Linked DNA regions of Homo sapiens. The protein of the gene in region 2 interacts with the protein of the main gene of each other region in a pairwise test. Each region holds a gene or a part of one and is shown on either strand. Other genes may lie near its edges. The genes, in order: RRAS2 and RALGDS.

What was found.
Region 1: the proteins of RALGDS (region 2) and RRAS2 interact in a two-hybrid assay, tested with the Homo sapiens proteins (2 studies listed by BioGRID and IntAct).

What each region holds. Positions count from the first base shown.
Region 1 is NC_000011.10:14,349,082-14,352,894, forward strand, and holds part of RRAS2 (ras-related protein R-Ras2), read right to left. Parts: intron 1-3,813. UniProt on the Homo sapiens protein: GTP-binding protein with GTPase activity, involved in the regulation of MAPK signaling pathway and thereby controlling multiple cellular processes. Regulates craniofacial development.
Region 2 is NC_000009.12:133,111,036-133,114,848, forward strand, and holds part of RALGDS (ral guanine nucleotide dissociation stimulator), read right to left. Parts: intron 1,118-3,813; coding exon 1,007-1,117; intron 1-1,006. UniProt on the Homo sapiens protein: Functions as a guanine nucleotide exchange factor (GEF) activating either RalA or RalB GTPases and plays an important role in intracellular transport. Interacts and acts as an effector molecule for R-Ras, H-Ras, K-Ras, and Rap.

The DNA.
Region 1 (3,813 bases), on a different chromosome or scaffold from region 2:
CAGCCTCCCAAGTAGCTGGGACTATAGGCACCCGCGACCACGCCCGGCTAATTTTTTGTATTCATTTTTTATTTTTATTATTTTTTTTAGAGACAGAGTCTTGCTCTGTCACCCAAGCTGGACTGCAGTGGCGCGACTTGGCTCACTGCAACCTCCACCTCCCAGGTTCACACCATTCTCCTGCCTCAGCCTTCTGAGTAGCTAGGACTATAGGCACCCGCCACCACACCCGGCTAATTTTTTTTTTTTTTTTGTATTTTTAGTAAAGAGGGGGGTTTCACTGTGTTAGCCAGGATGGTCTCGATCTGCTGACCTCGTGATACACCCGCCTCAGCCTCCCAAAGTGCTGGGATTACAGGTGTCAGCCACCACACCCGGCCTATATCTACATACTTCTAAAACTATGAATTTATGCCACTATCTGCAATTCCAATCAAACATCAGAGTTCATTTTAACCTTCACATTTTTCACCTTTGTAACTCCCTTCTCCAACAGTGAGAAACTGGCTCCCATTTTCCACAATATATTTACTTATTTGCTTATAACAGTATAGACAATTGCTTCAAAATTGCAAACCCATGCCTTTATGACAACAACAAAAACCAAAAATTCTAGTTAACTCTATTAACTAGAGTTCAATGTTTCTTTCAATCTTTTTGTCTTTATCCTGAGGACAGAGTTCAAATACTAGGATCAAAAGTTACCTAAATTAGTTGTTTTTCACTCCTTCAGTGTAGTTAAGTTACTCATTTGAAATACGGTTCAGTTCATTTGTTTCTATTTGTACTCCCTGTTAAGGTGTTTTTATTTGTCATCAGTTGATTTGGTTGGTGTGTTTGCTGCTTATATACTCAGTATGTGAAACATTAACATGGTTTCAAAAGTCAGAAAGGTATCCTCAGAAGGGTCCCTGCCCCCATTCCCTCTATCCTTTCCACCATATACCTTTTTACCCATCCTCTAGGAAATCAATCTTATCAACCTCCAATTTATCTTTGTGTTTTGTTTTTGCCCCAATGAACAAATACATACGTATTTTCTTATTTCTCCTTCTTTCTTACACAAAAGGTAGTATACACACAGTAGTAGATACTTTTGCACTTTTTTTTCACTGACTGTAAGTTTGGTTTGTGCGATTCCTCCAAATCTCATATTGAAATCTGATCCCCAAAGTTGGAGGTGGGGCTTAATGGGAGGTGTTTGGGTCATGGGGATGAATCCCTCATGAATAGATTAATGCCCTCCCTGGGACTGGGGTGTGAGTGAGCTCTTACTTATTAGTTCCACCACAGCAGGTTGTTAAAAAGAGCCTGGCGCCTCCCCCACTGGCTTGCTTCCTCTCACCATGTGATCTCTGCACATGCCACTCCCCTTCATCTTCTGTCATGAATGGAAGCTTCCTTACACCCTCACCAGAAGCAGATGCTAGTACTGTGCTTCTTGTACAGCCTGCAAAAACTCTAAGCCAACAAAACCTCTTTTCTTTATAAATTACCCAGCCTCAGGTATTCCTTTAGGGCAGGGGTGTCCAATCTTTCGATTTCCCTGAGCCACACTGGAAGAACTGTCTTGGGCCACACATAAAATACGCTAAACTAACGATAGCTGACGAGGTTAAAAAAAAAATTGCAAAAAAAAAATCTCATGTTTTAAGAAATTTTATGAATTTGTCTTGGGCCACATTCAAAGGTGTCCTGAGCCGCATGCCACTCGCAGGCTGAGTGTTGGACAAGCTTGTTTGAAAGCAAGACAAACCAAGACAAGTGAACAACATATCCAAGAAAGCACTCCATATCAGTTAATCATGCCCTCAGTCTTTTTCACAGGTGCATAATGCTCCATTGGATATTCCTACCACGTAGACTGCTTGTTAATTTTTGTAATTAAGAAATGCTGCAACCTTGTACATGTGTATTTTCATACTGTGGGAAGTGCATCTTCTGGGTAAATTCTGAGATTTGGGACTGCTGAGTCAAAAGGCATGTATGTGGTCAAATAAACACATCTTATGTTGCCTAATAACACATAATTTCTGTATTATTTCTGCCCCCCAAAAAATGCATAACCTGAATCTAATCATGAAGAAACATCAGCCAAACCCAAACTGAGGGGACTCTATAAGTAACTAATTTGTACTCTTTAAAAATATCAATGTCATAAAACACAGAGACTAAAGAACTGTTCCAAAGTAAGACATGGAAATAATGAATTGGATAATCTGAGATTTTCTTTTGCTATAAAAGGCGTAACTGGAACAACTGGCAAATTTCAAACAAATTCTACACATCAGGTAATAGTATAATAACAAATCAATGTTAATTTCTGAGTTAGGTTAGTATATTTTATTCATGAAAGCAAATGCAGCCAGGCACAGTGGCTCACACCTGTAATCCTAGCATTTTGGGAGGCCAAGGCAGGTGGATCACATAAGGTCAGGAGTTCAAGAATAGCCTGGCCAACACGGTGAAACTCCGTCTCTACTAAAAATACAAAAATTAGTAGCCGGGCATGGTGGCAAGCGCCTGTAATCCCAGCTACTCGGGAGGCTGAGGCAGGAGAATGGCTTGAGCCCGGGAGGTGGAGGTTGCAGTGAGCCAAGATCGCACCACTGAACTCCAGCCTGGGCAACAAAAGTGAAACTCCATCTCAAAAAAAAAAAAAAATTAGCCAGGTGTGGTGGTGGGCGCCTGTAATCTCAGCTACTCGGGAGGCTGAGGCAGGAGAATGCCTTGAACCCAGGAGGCGGAGGTTGCAATGAGCCGAGATTGTGCCACTGCACTCCAGCCTGGGTGACAGAGTGAGACTCCGTCTCAAAAAAAAAAAAAAAAAAGAAGACAGCAAATGCCCTGGTTTTTCGGAAATACACAAAGAGATATTTAAGGATAAGGGTGGCATCATGTCTTCAACTTACATTCAAATGATTTTAAAAACCATATATTGCAGGGAATAAGCAAATATAGTAAAATGTTACCATTTGGGAAATCTGGTTAAAGTCAAAAAAGAAAGCAACATCGGATGTCTTTTTAACACTTATATTCTTATTTCTACTGCTGAATTTTACTTACATGGATAAAGAGCTTTCTCCCAGAAAAAAGAATCATTGTATAAGGTGACAGTAAGTTAAAGACGGCAATATTAAACTGTTAGTATATACCGACAATAAACTGACTGCATTTTTAATTAAACTATAAGTTAAAGCTGTTCAGTGCTATGCAACAAATAATCACATGGCCTTTATAAAACACTAAAAATAAAATATAATTTATAAGACATCAAGGAGCTCAGTCCAATTATTCTCAAGTACAATTTAAGACAATTTATATTTCTTTGCATCTTTGAAACACATTTTTCTTTGCAAAAGAAATAAATCTAAGGCCTACCAACTACAAGTTTAAGTTTCAATCTCAAACAGACTCAGCAGCTCTGCCCAAAGTAATTCAAGATCAAGGCCTTTCAACAAAATTCATGACTATTAACTCCATACTGTCTACACGCAAAGTGAAAATCCTTTACTCATTATCACTTTTCATTAAGGAAGGCACGGTGGAATTAATATCCTAAAGACCATTTTCCCCAACCAGAAAAAAAGGCGTGTCAAGTGGCATCACAAAATCTGTTTCAATTTTAAAGACCAACTTTAATTTGAAAAAGAAACTTTTAAAATATATATATATAGAGAGAGAGAGAGAGAGAGAGAGGGAGAGAGAGAGAGAGAGACATTTTTTTTTTTTGAGATATAGTCTTGCTGTGTTGCCCAGGCTGGAGTGCAGTGGCATGATCTCCGCCCACTACAACCCTCCGACTCCCAGGTT
Region 2 (3,813 bases):
GCAGCCTGGGTGACAGAGTGAGACCCTGTCTCTAAAAGAGTGAAAAAATTTTTAAAGTAGAATTTGAGGTGCGGGAATGATTTAAATACTGACACCTTCAGGTCCGTTGTTAGCTGAGTAATGGTAGCTGCCCTGTGGGAAGAGCGTCATCTGAGAGCTCTAACAAAATATCCCCATTCTAGAGATGAGGAAACAGAGGCTTATCCAGGGGCTGGGAGGGACTGGCCCGTTAGGACGCACAGCATCTTCCCCGTGGCACTGTTTTGTTTTGTTTTGAGACAGTCACCCAGGCTAGAGTGCAGTGGTGTGATCTCGGCTCACTGCAACCTCAGCCTCCTGGGCTGAAGCAATTCTCATGTCTCAGCCTCCCAAGTAGTTGGGATTACAGGCACACACCACCATGCTTGGCTAATTTTTGTATTTTTAGTAGAGATGGGGTTTCACCATGTGGGCCAGGCTGGTCTCAAACTCCTGACCTTAGGCAATCCTCCTGCCTTGGCCTCCCAAAATGCTGGGATTACAGGCATGAGCCACTGCGCCTGGCTCCTGCAGCACTGTTGAAGTGTCCTCAGAGGACTCACAGTGGCCCCACAGTCATGAGGAGCTGAACTGGGGCAGTGGCTCCAGCCTCCCTTCTGGAATATTATGCAGCTGAGTCAGGCCCCGGCTCTCAACCTGGAGGAACCCCAGGGATGTGTTCTGGGAGATGGCAACTTGCAGAGACCTAACAGCCTGAAGCCCTTTTGTCCTTGGGTGAAGACAGCCCCACTACTCCAGATGGTGTGCACATCTGGGAGAAGGCATGGAGGATGGTGAGGCTGATGGCTGCACACCCGGGGAAGGGAGGTCAAACATGAAAACCCGATTAAGCCTGGGCTGGACAGTGGGGGTCGGGAAGGGAGTGAAGGCCGTTTCCTTTGGGATCAGAACTGGGGGCCCTCAAGTGAAAAAGTCCTGGGAGGGATCCCCAGCTGCGTCTCCCAGTGGAGACCCCGAGCGCACTCACCCCGAGCCAGCGCTGCCCCTTGTTGCCTCCGTGGTGCAGCTGCACCTTGCGCAGGGAGATGGAGTAGATGACTCCGTTGATCAGCTCCTCACCGATCTCCTGCGTGGAGCTCTGTGAAGACAACGCCCGGCAGCCGGGCGCGGGGACGTCAAGGGCCTGCCTGGCCACCGTGCAGGGGATGCACCTGTGTAACCTGTTTCCCAGATAGGGCACAGACTGGCGGCTGCACAGACCTACAGCCTGGGGTGGAATGAGATCACAGCTCGAGAGCCACTGTCCCGGCACTCCACTTCCCCAACCCGGCCAGCCACGACCTGGGACGTGATTATGATGAGTCCACCAGGCTTCCAATCCCCTAGTAACTGGCTTCTGCTCCTGCCCAGGACAGACCCACCCTCAAGCCATCCCCTTCCACACAGGGGACTGTTATTCAGCCATTGCACAGATGGGTAAATGGAGGCTGAGAGAGGAACAACTGGTCCAAGGTCATGCTGCCTCGGGTAAGTGGTGAGGCAGGGACCCCAGGGCTCTGACACGGCTGACTGCATCCAGGCGGCTATGCCCCAAGAGAAGGTCCCCCTACCTCCCCAGGGCCAGAGGCCCATGGGCATCCTCACACTCACCCCTCCTCTACCCAGCCTGGGGGGCCCTGGCTGACCTAGCAGGAACGCACAGCTCCTCTGGGCCCAGCCCTGGTGCGTTGGCAGCCCAGGTCTGGGCAGGTGTGGGGCACCCCAGACAGCCACATCCCAGCCACTTCCTTCCCCTCTGCTCATTCATGCCCTCGTGCCTGCTTGGGCAATGGGAGTTCCCAGTTCCCTGACCATCATCACGTGAGGGGACGGGTGTGAGAGGTGACGGTGCTGGTATCCAGGCAGATGCTGGGGTTCCACAGAGCCCTAAACCACAGGCCTAGACTGGAACAGGAAGGGGGCATCTGGCCCCAGGCAGTAAGGAAAGGCCGTTGTCTTAGGAGACAGACTTCCCCCACCTGGCAGGCTGGCCTAGGTCACTTAGCCACAATTACCCCCGGCCTCACAGCCCCCTATGCCACCTGCTCTGTCCAGGGACGGAATGAGCTTGCAGCGGGTAGAGGAGCCGGGGGGTTAAGGACATCAACCTCAGAGGTTAGGAAGGAGCTAAGAGGTACTGGCCTGGCCCAGGGTCATTAACCGCCCAGTCAGTGCCCCAGCCCAGGTAGGCGTGGAGCTCAGAGAAGGCCTGGCAGACAGTGCTGACTCAGGCCCTTCCCTCAACCCCAGCAGGAGCCAGGTAGACTGTCCAGCATGCTGTGGACGGGACCCTGGCCTCCTGCCTCCTGCGCACCCTCAGAGGCCCAGGAGCCATCCTGGAAGTCCACTTCCTCCGACCTGAGGTCGCCTCCCACGCTGGGCTTTGTACAACAGGAAAGCTGCGGGCATTGTGCCGGGCTCCTGACCGCCACCGCCTCTGGACAGAGAGCCAGCCCCATTTCTTGGAAGTTAGCAGGGAACCCACAGGCACACTCACACCCACACCCCACAAACAGCCCCGCCAGGGGAGGTCTGGCCCTTCCACTGACAGGAAAAGAGACATACGCTCACCCCCCTTTTCCTGACTCACACATCTCTCCCCTGCCTAGAAAGTTGTTCCTTTGAAAAGAAAAGCATTAGAGGTTACAGCGACCAGGGCCCCCAACCACCCGGGCCTCCTCAGGGGTCCCAGACTGCCTCCTGTGAAGGCCGTTGGCTCAGCTGGGAGTCTCTCTCTCTCCCAGGGATTTTAGCCACATCTGGACCAGCTGGGAGGCAGACAGTATCCTGAGTGTCCAAGTCACCGGCAGTGGCTCTGAGATCTCGTGCAGGACAAGCCCGCCACAGGGGACTAAACATTAACCCTGGGGGAGCCCAGCACAGCACCCAGGTCCTGGCTGAGCACCATCAGTGCCTGCTGGACAGAGGTGTCCCCAGGCAGGCCAATCCCCAGGAGGGGCTGAAGCCAGGTGGCCTCGGCTGTCCCTGAGCAGGTCTAGAGAGCGGCTCCTCCGTGAGCTGGCAGGCCAGCAGCTGGCCCAGCCCTGCTTGGTGTCATGTGATCCCTGCACCCTTCCCCCACCCCCGGGGGGCCCTCTTCTGCCAGCCGGGTGGTGGGGAAGGATGCAGGCCCAACACTGAGAGCCATGCATGCTTGGGGTAAGGGAGTTGCCACCCTGTCACACAGTCGGGGAGACGCTCTAGCCCGCGTGGAGCTGGCCTGTCTTCTCTGGTCGCTTCCCGTCACAGCAGCAGCAGGCATGGAACCAGACCATAGAGCTACGTGGAGTACAGGGGCTGTTTAAACCATCTGCTCAGATGGTGGAGGTGCAGGCTCCAGAGAGAGCTGCCCTGGGGTCTGGGAACAAAGTGGCAGAGTAAGGCCTCTATCCCTTGCCCCCTCACAGGACAGAGAAAGAAAGCAGCCAACAGCCCTGGCAGCTGCCCCAGAACCCTCTGCAGCAAGAAAGGCAGGGTTCCAGCACCCACAGGCCACCCTAGGTCACTCTGTTAGCAGACAGCCCATCTGGGCAGCGCCTGGGCCCCAGGGCACTCTGGCCGGGCTGGGAGCTCAGAGCGGGAGGAGCAGGAACGGCCTAGTGAACAGCTGATGCAGAGAAAACGCTTTCCCCTGAGGGCAGGTGCCCAGGCAGCCGCTATGAGCTGACTGCTAGGAGGAGAAAAGAACACCACGTGCTTGGCTGTGTCCTCAAGGGACACTCCTGTCCCACCCCTAGCAGGCATGCTGATGTCCCTGGGCTCTGGGACCCAGTCGGCAGCTGTGCCTGTAAACAC